Linked DNA regions of Homo sapiens: regions 1 and 3 are each linked to region 2. Evidence: fine-mapped expression QTL. A gene starts in region 2. Each other region holds a variant in brackets. All regions are shown on one strand. Distances are from middle to middle.

The links. PIP is the estimated chance that this variant, and not a neighbour inherited with it, causes the effect. A credible set is the group of variants that fine-mapping cannot tell apart.
Region 1: its variant is the best candidate, but not a certain one, in a credible set for the expression of MIOS-DT in spleen (GTEx, PIP 0.82).
Region 3: its variant is the best candidate, but not a certain one, in a credible set for the expression of MIOS-DT in skeletal muscle (GTEx, PIP 0.54).

What each region holds. Positions count from the first base shown.
Region 1 is chr7:7,518,450-7,527,004 of GRCh38, reverse strand. It overlaps COL28A1 (collagen type XXVIII alpha 1 chain), which reads left to right. Exons shown (of 35, transcript NM_001037763.3): 4 at 2,756-2,776; 5 at 5,044-5,100; 6 at 6,890-6,943. Among named protein-coding and RNA genes, the nearest start is that of COL28A1, 13 kb to the left of the region's middle. The variant T/A (reference allele first, on the strand shown) is at 3,958.
Region 2 is chr7:7,560,675-7,569,229 of GRCh38, reverse strand. MIOS-DT (MIOS divergent transcript) reads left to right here and starts at 3,165. Exons shown (of 5, transcript NR_110084.1): 1 at 3,165-3,316; 2 at 4,906-4,993. It overlaps MIOS (meiosis regulator for oocyte development), which reads right to left and starts at 2,346. Exons shown (of 13, transcript NM_019005.4): 1 at 2,158-2,346; 2 at 1,542-1,623; 3 at 1,107-1,204. RefSeq lists an enhancer at 1,556-1,625 and a silencer at 1,876-2,525.
Region 3 is chr7:7,504,920-7,513,474 of GRCh38, reverse strand. It overlaps COL28A1 (collagen type XXVIII alpha 1 chain), which reads left to right. Exons shown (of 35, transcript NM_001037763.3): 9 at 2,340-2,384; 10 at 6,314-6,358; 11 at 7,408-7,461. Among named protein-coding and RNA genes, the nearest start is that of COL28A1, 27 kb to the left of the region's middle. The variant T/C (reference allele first, on the strand shown) is at 4,323.

The DNA.
Region 1 (8,555 bases), 42 kb after region 2:
AAATTACACATCAGGCACAGTAAGAGCTGAATTCGTGAATTTAAAAATTGATTAAGATATTGCTTATTGTGGCTAGGTGCGGTGGCTCACACCTGTAATCCCAGCACTTTGGGAGGCCAAGGTGGGTGGATCACTTGAGGTCAGGAGTTTGAGACCAGCCTGGCCGACATGATGAAACCCTGTCTCTACTAAAAATACAAAAATTACCCTGGCTTGTTGGCGTGCTCTGTAATTCCAGCTATTTCAGAGGCTGAGGCAGGAGAATTGCTTGAACCCAGGAGGTGGAGGTTGCAGTGAGCCAAGATCATGCCACTGCATGCCAGCCTAGGTGACAGGGCGAGACTCCATCTCAAAAAGAAGAAAAAAAAAAGATATTGCTCATTGTTAAAAGATTTTAAAGTGACAAATATTTAAATTTTTCTTTATTTCAGTAGTGGTTTTTAAATATTACAATTTGACTTGAATTATTAGTTGTTTTACTGCCTCTGTTGAACTTCTTTTGAATTTCTTTTCTCTCTCTTTCTCCCAGAGGAAACCACTCTCTGACGTGGTTTGAAATATCTTACGTATTTTAATAAATCAGATCATATTGTATGTATCTATCTACAACTTGCTTTTGCACTCAATGTTTTTTTGGAAATTTTGTTGAAATGTGTAGATCCAATGCATTCACTTTAACTGCCGAGTAGTATTTCATTTGCTGATCCATTCCACTATTGGCAATTATTTTATTTACAGTTTTTCATTACAAAAAACAATGAATGCTGAAATGTGCAAGTGCAAGAATTTCCCTGTGGTATGTCTAGAAAGGATGTCAGGATAACAGGCAAAAGCAAGAATTGTCCTGGCAGCCTCGTGATAAAGCAGGTCCATCTTCAGCCTTGTAGGCATAACCAAATGTTCTACAGAGGGTAATACCATTTTAACTAAAACTATCAGTGTATCTGAGTTCCTATTTCTCCATAGGACCTCCTAGCTCTTAAAGATACAAATATCTCATCTGCTTTCAGCCTGGATTTACATGGCTAGTAATTTAAAATCGTTTGGTTGGGAGGGGTGGTAGGTGAGACTCTAAATTTTGTAGCTAGTGTCTGTGGCTAGGGTTTTATAGCTCCTGAGATCATGTAGTCAAACTTTGTCCTTTTTTATATATGGAGAAAATTACCTGGAAGGATTGTATGACTTGTCCAAGGCCACATAGCTAGTTAATTGTTGAAACGGGATGGAAACCCAGAATGACACTTAATTCCCAGCCTAATTTTTTCCCTATTAAATCATTAAAGCATTTTGTTATCTCGTCCCTCTATAGTATTAGTTTGTACGGAAATAAAGTAAAAATAAAACTAAAGGGATGCAGCATCCTTCATAAAGCTACATACTCTTATTTAACTTCCTTGTTAGCTTCTGCATTTTTAATATCTTGCAACAAATATTCCAGTGCTTGCTCCTTCATCTTTCTATTTTATCGTATGTAAATTACCCCTTCAGATGAAATCACAAGGCACTGGTTTGACACATAATTTCTAGGTTAAGAAAGTACTAATTCTATATATAAACATAGATTAGTTTCTTTCCAGCGTTTGTCTTCCAACACAGCCTTCAGTGCACTTGTCAGGTAATATCCCACTGAATTCAAGTATGGTAGTGAGGCCTAGGTGTTAGACAAAAACAAGATCATGACATTTCTGCAAAATTATAAATTTAAAATAGTTTTGAAAAATATTCTGGCTAATTCATTCCTGTATGGTACATATGACATGCACTGAAGACGGTCAGGAGGTGCAGCCCAAGTGTGTTACCTCAGTTGAGTCACATTATGGTGGAACCATGTTTCCTTATTGCAAAGCAAGAGGTTGAGTCTGATTGACTAAGACTCATTAAATTTGTTTTTTTGTTTTTCATAATGATCATTTTTTATTATGAAATATGTATTACTTTTCTATCACTTAGTTTTTCCCCTAAGTTAGCCAGTTATAAATGTAAGTCCTCTTTTACATAAGTAATGCATATTGCTATGAACAGTTCAAAATTTTTACCAAAATATTATTCCTAATACTGTTTAAATTTAAAAGCTGAGTATCTTTTTTGGCTTCTGTTGAAATTCTGTAAATAAAGTATCATATTGGAGGCTTTTCAAATTTGAAATAGAAAACTCCTCCCCTAGTGATCATAATAATGGAAATCTTTGTCTTCTCATAATTCAGATCATCTCAAAAAATGTCACTGGACTTTGTAATTTTCTCTTTTTGAGTTTTAATATGATCTAACACCCATTAATATTTCATGAAGTTATGACTATATTGTTTTAATCTTGAAAAATAAATCATGAAAAATAGATGCATGTATATGTGCATAGGGATGGAAAAAATTGAAAATATACAATTATATATTCTGCCTCAGTCTTTGTATGTAAAAGTGAGAGCTTTGTCATTATGACTGATTAACTTTATAGTCAAATTATGGAGATTACAGAGCTGATAAAGGAAACAAAAGATAAAACATAGAATGCAGTAAGATGAAGTTCCTAGAAAATATAGGTTAATTTTTAATGGTAGTTATATCTCTTATTATTACATGGCTCGGACTGCTCCTTGGGTGGTTGGCTGGTTGGTTTTATTGCTTTTACAAGTTTAAAAAGGCTGAATTGCTATTCTTTGTGGAAACTTCATATCCCATAGGGAATAGTTATGACTAATAAGTAGCTGGAGGCAGAACTATCAATCGAGTTAATGCTTCATTCTTTTTTCCCTTGTAGGATATCTTATTTGAAAAGAAGGTAAGCACCACATGCTTTGATTACTACGAATTACTCCAAACACTTGCATTATCAAATCAGCATTATAATTCACATTAGAAGATTAAGTGTGACTAAATAAAAATGCTTAGTTCTTTTAAAATGAGCCACTCTATTCTGAGGCAGCCATCTGATTTCTTTTATACTACCATATTCAATGCAAGTTGGAAAATTTAGAAAAAGTAGGAAATATTGAATGTGACTCCAGGAGTGATTTTAGAAATCAGTCATGAGCAAACTACATAGTTTTTGCTTACTTTGATGTGCTTCCTTTATTCTAAGCATGTATCTGACATCAGCCACATCAGGTCCTCTATTTTGGGGGGTGTTCCTGGTGTTGGCTAGGTTAGGCAGAGGGTTCCCAGCTAAGAGACAGAGTCTAGAGTCATCCCCTGCTGCCTGCCAATTGACTTTGAGCTCATTCTCCTTATTGTGAAGAAAAGGCAGCCTGATGATGGCAACCAGACCACGTGGCAAAGGAAACTGGCCAATAAGATTGGACGAGCCTTAGCACAATAGATAATCATCAGCTTGCTGAGGAGTCCTGTCCTGGACATGCATTTCTTAAAAGAAAGAGTTTGGAACATCTGAGCTTTGTTCAATGAGCTGCTTATTTAACATCAGGAAATTTACAAGTATTGTTGCATAAAATAATAGGAGTCAACCAAACCTACGTCACACCATGTTTTATTGAATTGTACATGTTCGGATATACCATTATGTTATGTACCATTAAGAAAGGAAAAAAAAAACGGCCAGGCATGGTCGCTCACGCCTGTAATCCCAGCAGTTTGGGAGGCCGAGGCAGGTGGATCATGAGGTCAGGAGATCGAGACCATCCTGGCCAACATGCTGAAACCCCGTCTCTACTAAAAATACAAAAAAGTTAGCTGGGGGTGATGGTGCATGACTGTAGTCCCAGCTACTCAGGAGGCTGAGGCAGGAGAATCACTTGAACCCAGGAGGCAGAGGTTGCAGTGAGCCAAGATTGCTGCTGCATTCCAGCCTGGTGGCAGAGTGAGACTCCCGTTTAAAAAAAAAAAAAGAAAAGAAAGAAAGGAAAAAACCCTTGCTAGCTTATCTATGATACAGTGTCTTCTTATTAATTGCACTTTTTATTTTATACCTGTGGAAATAAGTTTTTAGACATTTTGGATGTAGAT[T/A]TTAAAATCCTGTATCACTTTCATATATACATATAAGGGAATATGTAAGCAAAATAACTTGGTTATTTCTAAAACTTCTTCACATCAGACTCTAAATCAAGCTTGTCCAACTCGCGGCCCACAGGCTACATGCAGCCCAGGATGACTTTGAATGCGGACCAACACAAATTTATAAACTTTTTAAAAACGTTATAAAATGTATGCACGGCCCTTTTTTTTTTTTTTTTTTTTTTTTTTTTTTGCTCTTCAGCTATCGTTAGTGTTAGTGTATTTTATGCGTGGCCCAAGGCAATTCTTCTTCTTCCAATGTGGCCCAGGGAAGCCAAAAGATTAGACACCCCTGGTAAATCTGAATCATTTTTTGTCTGAGTTGTTGATGTCCTTGTTTTTCTGCGTAATACTGACCTCTATGCCAGCAAAACCATTGGTGATGAAGCATTTCTTAAGTATGTTCTGGAATTTTCTCCCATTTCATTCTGTAAGTTTTGAAGTGCATGTGCAAAAAGCAACTACTTTGTCATGACTGAACCTGGTCAACAGCTGTTATAAGACTCATTCTGATTTCAGAGTTGTTAAAATGAGGAAGAAGGTGCATCTTACAATTATCTTACAATTAGTAAAATATGCTATAAGTCAAATGTTTTCCTTTGCCTAGTAAAGGAGCATTTAATATTATTATATTATTGAGCTTTGATGTGTTATATAGAAGAGAAGGATCAGAAATTCTAAAAGTCCACTGAAAATATTTATTTTCTCCTTTTAACTGGCATCTATATATTATACATGTATTTTTGATGGGATGTCTTTTATTTAACTATGCTGAAATTTAATAATATTTTGTTAGCTAGCTCTTGGTAGGTATAAATTTGCCTGGAATAATTTAATAGAGAGAGCAAAACATCCATAAATGTGCAAGGTAAAATTTCTTTGAGAGTGCTCCAGTTGGTTATATACTGAATACAATTTGAAATGCTATTTGAAATTTATTTGAAATACACTTTGAAATGTATTTGAAATACAATTTGAAATGCTGCATACAATTTGAATTTCACTGTGTGTTAATATCATATTTCATTATTGATTCAGTGTGAACGCAAGATTTGTGAATGTGAGAAGGGAGATCCAGGTGATCCAGGGCCTCCTGTGAGTATACTTCCACTTTGAACTTAAGTCAGAAAGTCCTAGCAATGATAGCTCTACTCGCTCTTGAAAACATCGGGGCTATTTTGCACTGCTGAAAAGCAATTGTTTGGAAATGGGAGGAAAAATGGAAATGCTACTTCTTTCTTTTATTTCTAAAGGGACACATTCTATCCTTAGAAATAAGCCTGGGATTTTACTGACCTGAACTGAGGGCAGGTGTGTTTTGAAGTTGTTCCCACAAAGGACATTTATATTCCTCCTCATAAAATAATTGAAGCCAGAATTTCTCAATAGTGAAGTGAATACAGAAAAAGCTAATACAAATAATCAGTGCTTTAAGCAAAGCTTTATCCTACTAGAAACATGGAGTACAAGCCTCTCTGAAAGTTAAATGTTGGCTTCACACGAATGCAGCAGTGCAGCAGCAACACCGTGTGGCCTCATGGACAGGAAGCTGGTCACGATGCTTTGGGGGATTAGGGTGAGTTCTGTGAAATGGAAGTAAGCACATGGCAACCAAAAATAAATGGCAGGATTGACTATGATGATTCATTGTTTGATAAGATAATCCAGGAAGGAGTGCTTTCTTTATATTCTGGCCTAATAACTGGTAGGTGCCATGTCTGTACTGGGAAGGCATTTGAAATGACATCTAGATCACTGGAAATGCTGAGCATTTTTTTAACATTTATCTTCATAAAGCATTCACGTGCTCATTCAGTCTTCTATTTATTTGTATAATTCCAAATATCATCCTTAGAGTTCAGAAGAAGCCCTATGGAGAATCTCACAAAATGCATGGATAAAAATTTTCAACTAATGCTTGTATTTGGGGGTGGGAGGGGAATGTGTACTGTGAATGAATTAGAATGTGACAAATTTTACCTTGAGACTCGGGTCCAAAGCCTACAATTTTTCAAACCATCCTACCAATCAAGGGATGTTTTTCTCCCCAAATACAAAGTTAGATGCGTTATATGATAGTGGGGCAGCCAGTAGAAGCTGACTTTGGCTAAAGCAAAGGTTTAGCCATCCCTTCCTATAAAGTCTTCGTTTATCTCTATGACACCAAGAGATGGCCAGGGTAAGAAATATTTCTTTATATTTTAAAATGAGCAATAAGAAAGCTCACAATTGCTAAGCACCTGACAATTTTAGTCACATTCTTGTCACATTTTAGTAGGGATAAGCCACAGAATATGTTATTTAACATTATCGAGTACCCCCAACACCATTTCTCAGAAAAGCAAGCTTTCTGGTTGATTAGGAACAGGAAAACAAAATGCTTTTCTGGAACAGGATTACAGAGCTCCTTTCTCCCATCTTTTGAGATTGTCTCCTGGATATCAGAACCTCTTTGACCAAAGGCAAGCAAGCTAGCTTGGTCCTTTTAAAAGTGAGTGACAGAGGGAATCGTAGAAGTGACCCACAATGAAGAGAGATTGGGAACAACTCCTATCCTTCTGCCTGTTGCAGCTACTCTTTTAAATCTTTGCATGAGTTTGATTTTGTTTGCAAAACTGCTGAGAAGTGATTGTTTTGGGAAGAAGTAATTGGTGGGAAGAGAGAAACATTATTCTCTTTTGAGCAAATCTAGAAAATCTGCCAATTCAAGACAGTGGTTTTCCTGGTGTAGAAAAAGGGAGAAGAGAATTGAATTTCTGCTTGGCAGGTAAAGGTTTTACAATTCTCCCTCATTCTAGGAAACAAAACTGATCAGAAATTATTATAAAGTATAGAAAACAATAGAATTCCTACTTAAAATAATATTTTTTCCCTTTGCCTTCAGGGTACACATGGAAATCCAGGTATCAAAGGTGAGCGAGGACCAAAAGGAAACCCGGTAAATGAATAAACAGCTTTTCTTTAAACCAGCGTATCTCCTTCTAGACTTTTTTTTTAAAACAACAATTTTAAAAATAAAAAGCATTGTAGTATATGGCAAAAATGTGACAACTTTTGTGAAGAATACAGGATTTCCACTTCCTATATTATCTATCTTATTTCTATTAGCTTGAATTCACAAATTCTGAGTAACATATATGAACATTTTAGTCAGTAAGTTTAGGAAACCTAGGGACATTGAATAAACAGAAACTAGTACTTAAACGATAGCAGCCAATCTTATTTAGGATGATGATTCAGCAACTAGTAATATGTGTTCCATATCAGATTGACACTGGCACTTGTGTTTTTAATGGGTATACTTTTAATGATTAACTGACTGACAATAATCATAGAAAAACCACCAGATTGTTTCTCACTCCCAGAGCATCTTCAAGGACTTCTCGAATTCTTTTCTCTGTGTACCTATCAAAAAAAATCCCAGGCTTTTAAAGAAAACATTCATCTGTTCAGATCATTGTTAGGATTTTGGTTCCAAGTTCAAGAACAACAGCAGTAATCACAAAGAGAAAAGTAGATATAACTATGTGAAAATTTAAGGCAAAATTCTGTGTAATGAAAAAAATAATAATTAAAGAAAAGGGAGTGATATGCTTTGGTTATGTCCCCACTCAAATCTCATCTTGAATTGTACGTAGCTCCCATGATTCCCACATGTGGTGGGAGAGACTGGTGGGAGGTAATTAAATCATAGGGGGCGGGTCTTTCCCATGCTGTTCTTGTGATAGTGAGTAAGTCACATGAGATCTGATGGTTTTATAAGGGGAAGTTCCCCTACATAAGCTCTCTTGCCTGTCACCATGTAAGATGTGGCTTTGTTCCTGCTTCACCTTCCTCCATGATTATGAGGTCTCCCCAGCACTGTGGAACTGTGAGTCCATTAAACCTCTTTGCTTTATAAACTACCCAGTCTCAGGTGTGTCTTTGTTAGCAGCATGAGAATGTCCTAATATAAGGAAGGAATATTAAAGAAATAGAAATATCAGGAAATATTTGCATCAAATGTAATGGACATTGGGTTAATTTCTACAGTACACTGAGTTAATTTCTGAACACAATTTTCAAGAGAGGAAACAAAACTAGTAAAGAAAAAAGTAAAAGCACATTTAATTTCATTAGGTAATAAAATAAATTTAAATAGAGAGAATGAGATATCCTTTAGTAGTGATACTTACATTTTAGAAACTTTGGAATCCAGAGGATTATTTTTTTCTGGAAGTGGTTTTCTAGTTCACATCATTTGTTTTTGTGTGTGTTTTGACGTTTAAAAACATTTCTTTCATTATAGCAATTAACACAGCAATATTAAAACAATAATAACTAGTGATAGCAATGTGGCAGTGAAACTGGTTTGCTTTTCATTGCAGGTAACTTGACACAAATAGTTTGGGAAAAATTAGGCAATAAGTAAGAGGTACTCAAATACTAACAAAGTTAACTATTACATTAAAAATTAACTCAAAAATGAACTCTAAAACAGCCCTATTAGAAAGTTTTTAGAGAGGTAATGAAAAAAATCAAAAGTTAAATGCATAAAAGCATTTTTGGCA
Region 2 (8,555 bases):
GTAACAGGAAGCAGCTACGACAGCAAAGAGGAACAGATACTGCCAAATAAGGGTTCATACTCATACCCCCACAAAGGAAATCTCTTAATTGGAGACATCATGAGATCTGGGCCATTTTCCCATCTCATTGAAAAATCAATGTTTAAATAAACACACTTTTTATCTAGGCTTTCATTCCACAACCCGACTCTTTATACCAATGGTCTATGGTAAGCAATCTTGATGCCACAAAGAAAAATCCATCTTACAAAACATAAAATACGAGTTTTAGCATAAAATTTAAAACTTTGATTTACATGACTCTCAACGGAGAATATCAGCATTTCTTCCCATGTTATGCACCTAAAATACTTCTATTGCCATCCACAAAATCTGATGACAGTAATTCATACAGAATCAAAACTTGAGAGAAAAAGACTAGCTAAATCTTCTAATTTCACAAAGGAGTAAAGTGAAGACCAGATGTTTGGGTGGTTATCCAAGGTCTCTCAACTTCCGTCCTAGATTACTGCAAAGAAAAGGATCAGCTACACGATATGCAGGACGTGGTGCAAAATAACAATGCAGGGCCCCTCATTTAAAAATTATTTACAATGTCCAGACAGTGACAGCAGACTGGCCATTAAACTAAGTGCTAGCCATTCTAAATGCTGGGCTCTGTGCTACTGCACAGGTTGCACATCATAAGAGTAGCCCTGTATAGAGAGGTGCATCTATGTCCACCCTTTTAAGAAGTGTATTTTTTTTCACCATGTAATATACAGGATAAACAGTTCCTTGCTCATGAACATACATCACCAAGAATCTGGTGTAAAGAAAACAATCTAGAGTCAGAAATCCTACAGCCACTCCCCAGCTCAGATCCTAACAAATCTTGTAATACTCCAAAACCATAAAACCGAGATAAAATCTATCCCATTTCCATCTCACAAAGCTGTGACAATCAACTGAAATGAGCTCTTCACATCACACAGATGTTAGTATTACTACCATTCCCTTAATCAGCCCTGAAAGTTAATGTTTTTTCCAAATTTTGGAGACATTAAAAAATTAGGTGTAGAAGGGGTGCGGTCTGCAATAATTACAGCTTGTATTTATATCCTCACCTTTCAAGTTTAACAAGTCTCACTTCCCATCAGTGATTTCTCAGCAAAGGAAAGCCATGCTGATTCTGTGTTCATTCACCAGAATATTTGCAACAGCACTGTCCAAAAGAAATACAGTGTGAGCCATATGATTTAAAAATTTCTAGTAGCCACATTTAAAAAGTAAAATTAGGTGGAATGAAATTTAAAAACACATTTTATTTAGCCAACATATCAACAGCATTATCCTTTCAATATGTAATCAATGCAAAAATTATTGAGGATTTTTACGTTTTTTTGGCACCAACTCTGGGAAATCCGATGTGTATTTTACACTTATAGCACATCTCAATCCCATGTGGCTACTGGACAGTGAAGTCCAACACATTAAAATACTACTCAGTGTACAAAGGATCCAACCACATGCTTTTTGATGTTGTCTTTTACTTTTCTTACCGTGGCAAATTACGAGAGCGGTTTCAAGAAATTTCCACCATCAGCATCTTCGAGGAGATGCACTGCACATATCCAAATTTCCCTTAAAATATACAAAAGGCCTGCAGTCATTTGCTAACCTATTCAGCAAAGTCCACAACATGTGTGAGGTTTCATTCATCCTCTTAATTTTCATTACTCATATGAGAAGAGAACAGAGCTCACCGGGAGACAGGCCGTTTAAGAAGTATAGTATTTAAGAGGGTACAACGGGAACAGGGCACGTTGCTATTCTAGGTAAAGCAGGAATCTGAGTCCGACTCTCCCGCTCCAGGCACCTGGCTGAGCCTCCCGGGAAAGGCTGGGACGCCGCTCCCCACAAGCCCGCCGCGGCGAAGGCTGTAGCGTGTTCCCTGCGCCCCGAGGAGGTCTCCGCAGGTCCCACGGCCGCCCGCAGCCCCCGGTGGCTCCCGCTGAGGCCCGGCCAGGCGGCCGGCCGCCCGGCGCGATTACCCTACAGCGCGGAACGCGCTCCCCGCCGAGACGCCCGGGCCTTTCAACTAGGCTATCTCCGGCCCCTCGCTGCGGCCGCGGCGCTCCCGAGAGTCGAGACGCGAACCGGGTCGCGCTCACTGACCTGAGGTGGCAGCGCGGCCGCCGCACAGCCGCTTCCGGCCGGGACACCGCCCCGCCCGCCGCAGGAGCCCGGACGCGGGCAAGATGGCGGCCGCGGCCGTGCGGCCCGTGACCTGGACCACTGGGCTGGGACCCACGACCCCACCACCACGCCTGGAGGACGCGCAGCGGCGCCTCGGCCTTGGAAGGGGAGTTTCCCAGCGCGAGCCCCGCCCTTCCCCGCCCGGGAGGCGCCTCGGGGCGGGGTCACTGGCCGGGAGGCCCCGCCTTCCGCCCGAAAGCGCCGGTGCACCCCGCAGGCCCTGCCCGTGGGTCCACAGGCCGGATCCCCGGGTTCCTAGGCTGGGACTGCTTCTCAGAACCACTCTGTCGTTTTTAAGCAGGGTCACACACTCTAGCTCACTGGGTCCATTTTAATTTCTATTAAACATTTTTTTTTTTTTGCAAATGATGTAGTAGGAGATCCAAGGTGTTTGGTTAATGATTTATTCACTCATTAGTCATTCCACAAACTTGTCTTGAGCACCTGTTATGTACCCAGCACTGTGCTGGAATGCTGAGGAGACAGGAGTGAAGTAAAAAGACATGGTTCCGGCAGGAAACAGGCAAGGAGAGCCTTGACTTGGTAGGGCTAACACAGTGCTACACAGGAGGGACGCCCGCTCGGTGTCGGGGGTCAGCAAAGCTTCCTTAAGGACCACTAGGTTGAGACAAGAAGGATGAGTATGGGATTAGCCAGGAAAGGGAAAAGGGCAGTGGGAACTGGAAGAGAAGAGCCTTCTAGGACTGGGAAAGAGCAAGTGCCGGGTCAGGAGAGAGGACATAGCAGTGAGGAGGCAGTAGGTATGGATGAATGAGCAGAGGAAGTGGGGAGAGATTAAGGTGCTTTCAGAAACGGGTTGGAAACCAGTTTAGTGAGTTTGGATGGCATTTACCTAAAGGCAATGTTAGAGTCATCGAAAGTTTTTAATCAGGCAAGTGGTATGATCAGTTTTTTGTTTTGTTTTGTTTTTTTTGAGACGGAGTCTGGCTATATCGCCAGGCTGGAATGCAATGGCGCGATCTCTCCTCACTGCAACCTCCGCCTCCCGGGTTCAAGCGATTCTCCTGCCTCAGCACCTCGAGTAGCTGGGACTACAGGCGCGCGCCACCACGCCCAGGTAATTTTTTGTATTTTTAGGAGAGATGGGGTTTCACCATGTTGGCGAGGGTGGTCTCATTTCTTGACCTCGTGATGCGCCCACCTCGGTCTCCCAAAGTGCTGGGATTACAGGCATGAGCCACTGTGCCCGGCCAGTATGATCAGTTTTTGCGCAGAGAGCTGGAGGGATAGAGTATCAGAATGAGGGATGATAGAAACGCAGGTTACCAGTGGCACGGAGAGTGGGCATGGAGAGAAGTGGGGGCCCTGGGGAATACTTAGAAGGCGGGATGAACAGAGCTTGGTGACTGACCAAGTGAATGACGGTGAAAGAGGATTCCAAGTTTTTTGTTCCCAAAACTGAGTGAATGGTGCTGCCTCAGGTGTCACGAGTCTGACCTCGAGGCAGTCTTCAGATGTCTGACAGTCTTTGCTTGTCTGTTCATGATTAAAAGTGGGTGGTCTTGGGCTTGTGGTGGTGATGGCTGTAAACAGCATAATGAGCTTAGTCCTGATGATCTTGGTGGCAGATGGTTTTGATAAGATGATGAGTTTGGGGAAAGTATTGCCTTTCCAATCCTGCCATTAGAAGAATGTAGGCTGAAGAAAGTGCTGTATTACTGAGAGGAGACATGACAGTATTCATCACTTCAAACACTATCTTGCCAATCTTCTCAGTGGTTTTGACCCTGGCCTCAAACCCCCACACAAAACCTCAGATCAATACAAATCTCTTCCTTATCCACTCCTACTATACATAGTTGAGGACAACTTTTCTGCTTGCACTCAGGAGATGACACTGCCTCCTACTTCAGAAAAGAAAATTAAAACTATTAGCTAGAATTTGCACAACCTCCCACTGCTTCCTCCTTCCCTCCTCCAACATCTTGATTCACTACCATTCTTACCTTCTTTTAGGTGACAAAGAGTAAGAGGAGGAACCCCATGTATATCTCCTCTTCTGGGACCTTGCACCATCAATTACTTCACTTCCATGTATCTTTGCCTCTCCATTTCTACTGGTTCTTTACTTTCAACACATACTCAAGTTATTCCCATTTTCTCTTCAAAGGAGAGGATCATATTTGCTCTCTGTAATTCCACTTCCCCCTCTCTCCCTTGAATTCACTCCATTCAGTCCTTCATGCCCACCATGCCACGAAACTGCCACTTGTCAAGGTCACCTGTGAGCTCCATGCTGCCAGTTTCAATGGCCAAAGCTTCACTCTTGCAACTTCTGTTGTTCTTGACTACTTCCTCTCTTGACATGTCTCATTCACTTTGTTGCATATCATCACTTTCTTCTGGTTTGTCTTTTATCCCTGTGACTTCACTGTTCCTTAAACATGACAAGCATGCTCTTGCCTCAGGGCTTCTTCACTAGCTATTCCCTCTGTCTGGAATGCAGAAATCTACATGACTCATACTCTCCCTTTACTCAAGACTGCTCACTTGTCACTGACTACCTATAAATTAGCTCCTTTGTTGTTGTCTTTATGACACCACAACTTCACATACGTCGCCATCTCTTTACTTTCCTATAGTTATCTTCTAGACTGTGTCTTCTCCTTATCTCCAGTTTTCATTCTGTATTTTTTTTCTTTTTAGTAAGAGGAAATAACTCTACATTCAAATTTGAGCAGGGCACTTGGTGACCTACTTAGACATGACATTCCTTGGCCTCCCTTTCAGCAAGGTAAGGCTATATCAAAAAGTTATGTCCTGTAAGATGTGAGTAGAACTGGATCATGTCCCTTAAAAGGAAAGCTGCTTGCTATACACTTTCTCTTCCCTCTTCTTGCTGTCTGGCAAATGGCAAAAAGAAATACAGACTGGAAATGGAAGCCATGTATTAAGGAAGGCAAAGCTGTTCTCACTAGCCTAAGTCCCAAACTAATCTCAGGGAGCTGGGGCACCTCCTCCCTTGGATCAACCACAGACTTCTGGACCATTATGCAAGAGAAAATAAACTTTGTTCTTTAAAAAATCATTGTTTGTTTGGACCTGGTAGAGCAGCTTAGCCAATTCCCTAATTAAAACAGAGGGGCTCTGTCTATTTTATTCTCTGCTTAATCACCAGGATGTAAAACAGTACCTAATAAATGTGGTAAATAAAAATGTATTGAATAAATCCTAAAACAACGTATTTATTCTACATCCTCCTCCAGCTAATGTCCCTTTTTCAACTTTCTTTTCCACTCAAGCTTTGTGAAAGTATATATTTTTTCATATTGCCACTAATTCTTCTAAAGCCCCTCACAGGAATAAGTGACACCTTTCTCAGTCTTTTTGGAAACTGATTCCCCTTCTCTACTAAACCAAGATCCTTGCAGGTAGCAATCTTTTAGCATGGAACTTTGGATTTCCCTTAGCACCTGTTGCATAGGTATCCAAAAAATATTTACTGAGTTGAGTGAGTGCTTTGTATCTTTGGAAACAGTAAACCGTAGCAGAGAACTTGACAGACTGGTCTGAGATTACACTAGTTGCCTTTACTAAACATGCGTTTTACAATAGATCCTAGGGCCACTGTAGTTCAGTCTCGGTATTTTGTTTGTTTTTAATTTAAGCTTTTGTATTCCTAATAGGATTTTTTTATTGTTGTTTTTTTGAGATGGAGCCTCGCTCTGTCGCCCAGGCTGGAGTGCTGTGGTGTAGTCTCAACTCACCACAATCACTGCCTCCCAGGTTCAAGTGATTCTCCTGCCTCAGCCTCCTGAGTAGCTGGGATTACAGGCATGCGCCACCATGCCTGGCTAATTTTTATATTTTCAGTAGAGATGGGATTTCACCATGTTGGCCAGGCTGGTCTCGAACTCCTGACCTCAAGTGATCTGCCTGCCTCATCCTCCCAAAGTGCTGGGATTACAGGCATGAGCCACTGCGCTTGGCCAGGATGTTCTTTTTAAGATTCTTCATTTATGTTGTGGTGATCCAGGAGAGGATTTTTGTTGTGGTTTTAAAACCAGAAGGATTGCAGTTGAAGGACAGCGAATTTCTTTCTTATTTACAGCTGCTCCTGGCAGCAATTCAGTTACTACAGTACTGGAACATTTTGTGAAGTCTGTGACTGGCTAATCCCAATTCTTTTTATTTCCACATGCACAAAATCAGTCTGTACCTGAGAGCAAGTTTTGCTTTTAGATGGAGGCTGGGCAGGTATCAAGCTGAAATGAAGCCCTGTAAACATGTGCCATGGCTTAGGTAATCTTTTCACATAGGTTGAAGATCAGAAGATCAGAGATATCTTAAAATAATGGCCTTCAAAAACTTTTCTAGAATATCCCCAAATAAATTTTTTAAATCAATGCATTTCTTCATGCATTTTGGGATTACACCTAACATTGTCAAAACAAATTTACATAGTTGTCAAGTATATGATTTGTAATATTTTTTAAATCTTTAAATTATAAGCAAAACAGGGCTGGGTGTGGTGGCTCATGCTTGTAATCCCAGCACTTTGAGAGGCCGAGGCAGGTGGATCACCTGAGGTCAGAAGTTCAGGACTAGTCTGGCCAACATGGTGAAAGCCCGTCTCTATTAAAAATACAAAAATTAGCAAGGCATGGTGGTGCGCACTTGTAGTCCCAGCTACTTGGGAGGCTGAGGCAGGAAAATCGCTTGAATGCGGGAGGCAGAGGTTGCAGTGAGTCAAGACTATGCCACTGCACTCCAGCCTGGGCAACAGAGTGAGACTCTGTCTCCAAAAAAAAAAAAAAAAAAAAAAGTTTTTGGAAAAATTTGACAAAGCATATCATGTGAATTCAGATTTACCTCAATACCAAGAATTATGTTTAAATAGGACAAGGAAGATTTTTTAAGTTTTTATTTTAAGTTTAGGGGTACATGTGCAGGTTTGCCATATAGGTAAACTCATGTTATGGGGGTTTGTTATATAGATTATTTAGTTACTCAGGGATTAAGCCTAGTACCTGTTATTTTCCCTGATTCTCTCCCTTGTCTCACCCTCCACCCCTGGTAGGCCCTAATGTCTGTTGTTTCCCTCTATGCGTCCATGTGTTCTCATCTTTTAGCTTCCGCTTATAAATGAGAACATGCGATATTTGGTTTTTTGTTCCTGCATTAGTTTGCTAAGGATAATGGCCTCCAGGTCCATCCATGTTCCTGCAGGGGACATGATCTCATTCTTTTTTACGGCTGCATAGTATTCCATGGTGTATATTTACCACATTTCTTTTAACCAGTCTACCATTGATGGCCACTTAGGTTGATTCCATGTCTTTGTTATTGTGAATAGTGCCACGACAAACAGACATGTGCATGTGTCTTTATAATAGAATGATTTATATTCTTTTGGGTATATACCCAGTAATGGGATTGCTGGGTCAAATGATAGTTCTGTTTTTAGGTCTTTGAGGAGTCGCCACACTGTTTTCCACCATGGGTGAACTAAATTATATTCTCACTAACAGTGTATAAGCATTCTTTTTTCTCTGCAACCTTGCCAGCATCTGTTATTTTTTGACTTTTCAGTAATAGTCATTCTGACTGGGGTGAGATGGTACCTCGTTGTGGTTTTGATTTGCATTTCTCTAATGATCAGTAATGTTGAGCTTTTTTTTTTCATATACTTGTTGGCCACATGTATGTCTTCTCTGGAAAAGTGTCTGTTTATGTCCTTTGCCCACTTTTTAATAGGGTTTTTGTTTTTTGCTTGTAAATTTGTTTAAGTTCCTTATAGACGCTGGATATTAGACTTCCGTCAGTTGCATAGTTTGCAAAATTTTCTCCCATTCTGCAGGTTGTCTGTTTATTATGTTGATAGTTTCTTTTGCTGCACAGAAGCTCTTTAGTTGAATTAGGTCTCATTTGTCAATGTTTGCTTTCATTGCAGTTGTGTTTGGTGTCTTTGTCATGAAATCTTTGTCTATTCCTATGTCCAGAATAGTATTGCCTAGGTTGTCTTCCAGGGGTTTTGGGTTTTACATTTAAGTCTTTAATCCACCTTGAGTTAATTTTTGTATATGATATAAGGAAGGGGTCCAGTTTCAATCTTCTGCATATAGCTAGCCAGTTATCTCAGCACCATTTATTGAATAGGGAGTCCCTTCCCCATTGCTTATTTTTGTCAGCTTTGTTGAAGATCAGATGGTTGTAAGTATGCAGCTATATTTTTGGGCTGTCTGTTCTGTTCCATTTGTCAATGTGTCTGTTTTTGTACCCATACCTTTCTGTTTTGGTTACTGTAGCCCTGTAGTATAGTTTGAAGTCAGGTAGCATGCTGCCTTCAGCTTTGC
Region 3 (8,555 bases), 56 kb after region 2:
TCTAAGAGTCACACCTCCCTCTTTCCTGCTCCTGATGCCTGCAAGAGCCCAGGCAGTACCCTAGGCAGAAATGTCAGGTTAATGGAAAGTGACTTGCAGCCTATGATAGTGTGCCTTGTTCAGCTACAGGTGACTGATAAGAACATGGACTTGAGAGCCTAACAGACTCAAATTTGTGGTCATGGACAAAGTATGTAATGTCTCTGAGCCTCATTTTGCTTATCTGTGAGTGGAGATATGTATATATACCTCGCAAGGCTGCTATGGGGATTAGCAATAATGTAAAGGCTATGGCACACACTTTGCATCCATAATTGGAGGTTACAGTTGTGATTTCCCTCCATAGAGCACTGCTGTTGAAACTGTGGTCTGCAGGCTGGCTGCCAGTCTGTGAATGGTTTGTTGCTATTCTGCAACAAGATAAAGCTTCCGCCAGCATATAAATCCACTATATTACAACGTATACTGTTTAAAGTTCAGCTGACATTTATTTTTCATAGCAAGACTTCCTTGATGAAAGAAGCAGTGCATTGATTTACATTTGAATGTAATTTCCTTGTCATTGTGTAGTGGCACTTCCAGTAACATGCCCTAGAGCAGTACAGAGGCAGAATAAAGAAGCAGCAGCAGAAGCTAGTGTTGAGAGCACTGGACTAGGAGTCATTGGGTAGCCTGTACATTTAAGTAAATCATTTGACATATCCAATTGTGTTTCCTTATCTTGAAAATGAGAATTGAATTGAGGATCAAAATAACGATATATATAAAAGCATTTTGAAAACTCTAAAGTGATTTATAAAGGAGATAATATTACTATGATTATGAAACTTTAGTCATTTTTCTGACTGTCACCTTTTAGTTCTAAGTAGTAGAAGTTTCAAAAGTCTGATATAATGGATTAGTATTCAGAGGTCCCAATTCTCCTTCTACTTGAGGAAACTAACCTTTTAAAAATATTTAGTTTTATTTAAAAAATTTAATGGACAAATCTAAAAAGTTCATATTTATTGTATTGTATAAAATATAATTTGATAAATGTATACATTATAAAATGGCTAAATTGAGCTAATTAACATATATATCACTTCACATAATGATCAGTTTTTGTGGTGAGAATGCTTAAAATCTACCCTTTTAGTGATTTTCAATACAAGACATTGTTATTAATGATAGTCATCGTGTTGAACAATAGATCTCTTGAACTTATTGCTCCTATCTAACTAGTTTTGTATCCTTTGGCCAACATTTCCCAAGTTTCCACCAATTACCCCTGGTAACCACCCTTCTACTCTGTGCTTCTGTGAGTTCAAATTTTTTAGATCTCACATATAAGTGAGATCATGCCATATTTGTCTTTCTGTTCCTGGCTTATTTCACTAAACATAATGTCTTCCAGGTTCAGGTTCATCTATGTTGTTACAAATGACAGGATTTCTTTCTCAAAGGCTGAATAATATTCCATTGTATACCACATTCTCTTTACTTAACCTTCTTAATTACAAAATTTTAATCTATAAAATTGGATTAATATTTATCTCAGACAGGTAATGTCAGATTAACTAAGATAAAATATTTATGATAAACTATCACTGATAAACTCTAAAGAATAACTCAAATGTTGTTTTTTCAGCAATATTCTAGGGAAGACAGGGAAGTAGAGCATAATAATGAAAAATATGTAGCATGCTTGCTGCCAAGCCCGGCTCTCCTACAGCAGTCCTCGCTAACTCATCATGGCACCTGTTCCCACTAACTCACGATGCAATCTCACTTCAGAACCTTTCTCTCACGGTTCTCCAGGTGAACACTACTAGGTGGTCAAGGTTGGTACTCAGGCTGAAGCATGGTGTTCTTGAAAAAATAGGAATTCCAAGTTAAAGTATCTGGGTTCAGACTCTGATTCTTTTACTTACTAGCTATTTGATAGAGGGAAATTATCTTGTTGAGTTTAAATGTTCTCAATTATAAAATAAGAATGATAAAGCTGATCTCCCTGGACCGTTATGTGGATTCAATTAAACCACATATGCAAAGGGCATCTAATATGTGATTAGATGCTAGGTTCCTTTTCTTCTAGTTTCATCCATTTCTTAAAAATGTCAAACCTTATTACATTGTTCCTGATTTATTCCTGTCAAGTTAAGGATGACTCTTGGGTAAAAATATTCAGATTTCAATGCCCATAAAACCCACAGTATTGAGGCTAATATTGTGTAGAAACCAAAAGAGTGCTTATGTTACAAGAGTCTGCTGGGAATTTAAAAAACAAACAAACAAACATTCTTAATAGTGAATGACTGCAAGTGTTCTCTTATTTATTTCACTTATTTATTTTTTAGGGTGAACGTGGGGAATGTGGTAAACCAGGGATAAAAGGTGACAAGGTAAGGAACATGTTTTTAAACTGCTTACAGCTGTGATCCCTTTTGGGTTGCGTTTCCTTAAGGGGAAATTCCTGGGCTGAATTATGGTGATCTCACTACTAGAGTTGGAATCAATGGCTCAATTTTTCACATCTGTAAAACATGTGGTAGAAAACAAAGTGATGCCTAACTCAATAATAGAACCCCCAAATGCCTTTTTTATGGACCATTAAGACTTCATTTTCTGACACCCTAACCTTGGAGGCCACGCCCACTGAATGTTATGGTAAAAAGAATTATTTAACCTGCAAAGTTAATTAAAGCTGCAGTTAGGTCAGGGTAGAAGTGCTTTCCAGATGCAAACACTGAAAACAGGCACTTTCCAAAATAGTGTGAAGAACTCTGAAATCAGTCAGTGAAATAGTTATAAACAGTGTGGTGCAACTAGACATAGAGATTTGGAATTTTGAAAATGTAGACACAAACAATTGGATAAATATTCACCTTTATTTTAAAAAATAAATATAGGCTGAACGCAGTGGCTAACACCTGTAATCCCAGCACTTTGGGAGGCCAAGGTGGGTGGATCACCTGAGGTCAGGAGTTTGAGACCAGCCTGACCAATACGGTGAAACACCATCTCTACTAAAAATACAAAAATTAGCCAGGCATGGTGGCGTGCACCTGTAGTCCCAGCTACTCAGGAGGCTGAGACAGGAAAATTGCTTGAACCCAGGAGGCAGACGTTGCAGTGAGCCAAGATCGTGCCACTGCACTCCAGCCTGGGTGACAGAGTGACTCCGTCTCAAAAATCAATCAATCAATCAATCAATCAATAATGAAAGCACTTAAATTTGGAAATAATATTATGTTAAAGAGTTCCTCAAAAGGCCAAATATATACAGAGAGTATATCTGAAACATGATGTTAAAGGGTCCAAAAAAGTACAGAGTAAAAATAAATAGTTTTCATTATATTAAGAACTATTAACATCATGCCACCAAGATACCAAACTTTTTCAGTTTCTATGTTATAATTCTGGAAGGGAGTCAAGGAGAGAAAATGAGGCAGAAGGTTAGGAGAAGAGGGTGAGATAATGACTTTGGCCCATGAAACTAAACACTTTAAATAGATTGAGACTTTCTGAATGCTTTTAAAGTACTGTAGAGTTAAAGTCAGGTGGATCTGCAAAAGGTAGGCTTGGTAATTATCTCTGGTCAAAATGGGAAATGTGAAAATGAATAGATTCTTCCTGGAGTATAACTGAACATGGAAGATGGACCTGGATATTGGCAATGCAGAAAAAGGGACACACATAGAATAGAATAGAAATGAAAGTCAAAGAATACCTGGGAAAACTAGATGAAATTAAAATGGTTGACAAAGGATATCATATTTCATTGACTAAGATGTCAGGGATTATTAAATGTCCCATTATTTTCCATACCAAAAAGGAATAACAACAACAAAAAAAACCCACTGCCAATTATAAATGTAAGGTGCAATTGACTGTAAAATATACCCCAATGTCAGAGATATAAAAATGTGAAAAAATGTGCCTTAGAACTGATGAGATATAGAGTCCTTGACACGAAGAGTTTACACAAGTTTGTTCAGAAAAACATATGAACAACATGAAGAGATAGAGAAGTGGAAATTAAAATGGCTAATAAATAAGAAAAATATCCGAATACAGTAGCAATCAGATAAGTGAAATTAATACATTAAAATTAGGCCGAAGTGGGAGGATCACTTGAGTCCAGGAGTTTGAGACCAGCCTGGGCAACATAGTGAGGCCCCGTCTCTACAAAAAATTTAAAAATTAGTTGGACATGTGCCTGTAATTCCAGATACTTGGGAAGCTGAGGTGGGAAGATTGCTTGAGTCCAGGGGGTTGAGGCTGCAGTGAGCTGTCATTGTGCCACTCTACTCCAGTTTGGGTAACAGAGCGAAACCCTG[T/C]CTCAAAAAAAACAAAATAGGCTGGGCGTGGTGGCTTATGCCTGTAATCCCAACACTTTTGGAGGCCAAGGTGGGCAGGTCATCAGAGGTCAGGAGTTTGAGACAAGCCTGGCTAACAAGGTGAAACCCTATCTCTACTAAAAATACAAAAATTAGCTGGGCATGGTGGTGCACACCTGTAATTTCAGCTACTCGGGAGGCTGGAGCAGGAGAATTGCTTGAACCTGGGAGGCAGAGGTTGCAGTGGACCGAGATTGTGCCATTGCACTCCAGCCTGGGGGACAGAGTAAGACTCCATCTCAAAAACAAAACAAAACCAACAATAAAACAATAAGGTATTATATCACCAGTGTGGGCAACTAGGGAGGCTGAGGTGGGAGGATTGCTTGAACCTGGGAGATAGAGGCTGCAGTGAGCTACTCCAGCCTGGGCAACAGAGCAAGACCCTGTCTCAAACAACAACAACAACAACACCAGCAACCAAAAGCAAACATACAAAAGTATTATATCACCTATCAAATTAGCAAACAGTGAAGTAATGTATAATACTAATTGTTGATGGGGAGCCCATAAGATGAAGATACACTCTCTCATACTCGGGTAGTGGAAATGATTAACAAACAAACTTTATGGAGGAAGTTTCTCTCTCTTTATTTCTATATATGGCATGAGAGACAAAGGACAGCCGGTGAACCTTAAATGTGCTTATGGTCTCTGCTTCCATCATCCTCTTCTAGTAGACTATTCTTAGGAGTGAATCAGAAGTTGGGCAGAGATTTATACATAAAGATGTTCATTATAATATTAGGTCAAAGCTAGGGAAATGAGTAAATAAATTATGGTAGTTCCCTATTCTTGACTATTATCTGTTTACTATGAGTTTTTAATGACATGGAAAAAGGAAATTTTTTTTTTTTTTTTGAGACAGAGTCTCGCTCTGTTGCCCAGGCTGGAGTGCAGTGGCGCGATCTCAGCTCACTGCAAGCTCCGCCTCCCGGGTTCACGCTATTCTCCTGCCTCAGCCTCCCCAGTAGCTGGGACTACAGGTGCCCGCCACCACGCCCGGCTAATTTTTTGTATTTTTAGTAGAGACAGGGTTTCACTGTGTTAGCCAGGATGGTCTCCATCTCCTGACCTCGTGATCCGCCCGCCTCGGCCTCCCAAAGTGCTGGGATTACAGGCGTGAGCCAGCACGCCTGGCCGGAAAAATATTTTTGATACAGTGTAAGGCCAAATGGGTAGGACACAAAATCAGACATACACTTTGATCACATTATTTGAAGAGGAATCTACTGGGAATAAAACTGGACGAAAATATGCCTAAAATGTTAACAGCATTTGCTTCTGTGTGATTTTTCAAATTGTTTATTTATATGTTTCTATAATTGTCAAAGTGTGTCAATTGTTAACAGGTTGTACTTTGATAAGCAAAAAAAAAAAGTGGAAATCTGGGGAAATAAAAACTAGACTATGTTCTCCCTCACAAAATAAATTTTAAAGGGTTTCCTGGTTATGGGACCGAATGAAATATTTTCTATTAGAAGAGTATTGAATATAAACAGTGTTTTGCCACGTTCAGTGTTTTGAAGATGAGCAAAAGAGTGATCTAGATAGCATGGAAATGCACTACATTGTTAATTTAACTGACATTACCCTGTCGGAAGGAAATAATATTCCAATAAGTTTATAGCCCTCTAAGGAATCTTATAAAGTAATTTCTTTACTGTAACCAAAATGACCAAAATGTCAATATGTAGGCAACGGACTTACATCTAAAATTGTATTTTCATGGAGATTGTTTACTGAAGGAAAGTTTGACACTCCTACCCCTTGGCTTGTTAATTAGGATTATTTCAGTTTATTGCCTTTGATGTTAAGATAACCAGGGAAGATGGCAATTACCGAGAACACATTTCCTTCCCTCCTACCTAAAATCACTGCACGTTGAAGATGTATATTTAGAGAGACTTATTTTCAATTTTATTCCACAGGGATCCCCAGGGCCATATGGACCAAAGGGACCCAGAGGAATTCAGGTAAGGGGGTTAAAACCAAATCTAAGTTTGAATTAGAATCACCTGGGGAGTTTTTAAACCATCCCCTTGCCCACTTGCACCCTCTGCCAGTTAAATCAGAATGTCTGGGGATTGAAGCCAGGCATTAATATTGTTTAAGATACCCAGAAGATTACAATGTGCAATAAATTTTGGAAACAACTTCCCTAATGTTTTCATTAACTTAACTAAGACTCCCTAAAGATAGGTACCAACAGGCAAGTATTAGTGAGCAGCTTAGGGGATGAAGTTAAAAAATTAAGAGTCTGGAAAGATGGAAAGTCAAGTGGTTAAAAGCAGGATGTAACTATTTTTGCACTGCTACTATAATGTAGTTGGAAAAGTTATGCATTTTATCTAAATCACAGTATATTTTTATTGTTCTATAACTAGATAATGTTCTATAATATGGACTGATTCTCTAAGGCATTTAAGTTAGACATCCATAGATTTCAGAAAATAATTTGAATCTTTTCCTAGCCTAGGAACTTATCTCTTCTAAAGTTATAATGGTGCTCTGTGTGAGGAGTTAATTTCAGTATTTCAAAAAGCCTACAGAAAATTATAATTTTACCCAGAATCTCCTAGACACCATCTAGTTAACCACTAACTTCTTTGCTTTAGCCTGGAAATGTCAGAGCCAGGCAGTCATTCTGGTTATCCCAGGTTCATTGGAAGCTCTAACGTCAGTTACATATGCCTTAGATATTTTAAAAAAGAAGATACTTAACTGGCAAAATATTTTTTAAAAGGAGTCAAGAACGTTGGAATAATGTTGGAAACACAGGTTTAGTAAACAAACATCTCGTTAATTAAATGTTTGCTCTTAGCATAAGTGCTATTTTGGAAGCTACGTATTTGACACAAGAAATTTTATCTCATCCCACTTCTCGATTGAATGTGATTTCAATTTAGCTCTGAGTTACACAGTCTAACTTCGATCGCCAGGATCTCTAGGGACCCTAAAGAATGATTCATTCCTGCTGGCCTTTTGTACACAGAACTAATTCTTGGTTTTCATCCTGGAGCAGGGAATTACTGGACCTCCAGGAGACCCAGGCCCAAAGGGGTTTCAAGGCAATAAGGTAATCTTACCCTTTGATTAAAGACAGGCAGAGTGCCTTTCCCCTAGTGCGCTATAGTAATGTATGTTTTATTAGGTAAAAGTCAATGGATTCTTTGAGGAAGTACCTTTGGAAATGCATAATAACCTGCAGATGTATACAGAGAATTAAGTCCTAATGCATTCAGGAAGTTAGCAGCATACCTTTATCATTTATTATTATGTTATTCAAAGAGGGATATTGTTAACTATAAGCCATTATCTAGAATCTTTGCTGTGTTTCCTTCTTACTCCTGACTTTTATTTATTTTATGGCTCATTAGAAACCAAAAAGCAATAACAAGTGACACAATTCAAACCACTCTATTTCTCAAATGTAATGCCACCTCAATATACACTTTATAGGGGAAGGAAATTTACAGTTGTTATACCAACAGAAATCAAGCTTTTTTTAATTACAGGGAAATCTCAACCATCAGCACCATGCTTGTAGTATCAGTCCACAGATAACCAGCCAAGACAAATAGGGAGGGGTTGAATACAAGCCACGCAGAACAAAAAGATGCAGATGGGAGGGATCTTTAAAGGCCTGGTTATAAGGCTCTCTTTTCCAATGAGAGTGACCATTAATTTGCTAAAACAAGCTGTTTAGTTCCTTTTTAACTCTTCTCAAAGCTTAGTAAATTTCACGGATATAGTAAATATCCAGTAAATGGTGTCGACTTAGTGATTTGAGTGGTATGGAATTTATGGCAGTAATAAAAGCAGAAGATGCCATCCTCAACTGACCCTAAAGAAAGCCAGCTTTTTAAGGGTGATATTAAACTGAAGTTGTAGGGAGCAGTTGGGCTACTTGAGAGAGAGGAAAGAGAGTGACAGTATAATATTTTTAATGAGATAATGACAGTGTGTGATTTACCAGGCCACTTTGAATTGGCAAATTAAAATAGAATGGGCTTCTCAGCAGGCATGTGCTTAGGCTTCAACTGGGGAAACTGTCTTTTTCACTTCTTGCCTATGATTAATTCTCTCTGGGGAAAGAAATGGCCTTGTTGAATACTGATGAGCAGAAGTTTTGATAAAATTGCATTGGCTACAGGTACAATCCTACAGTAA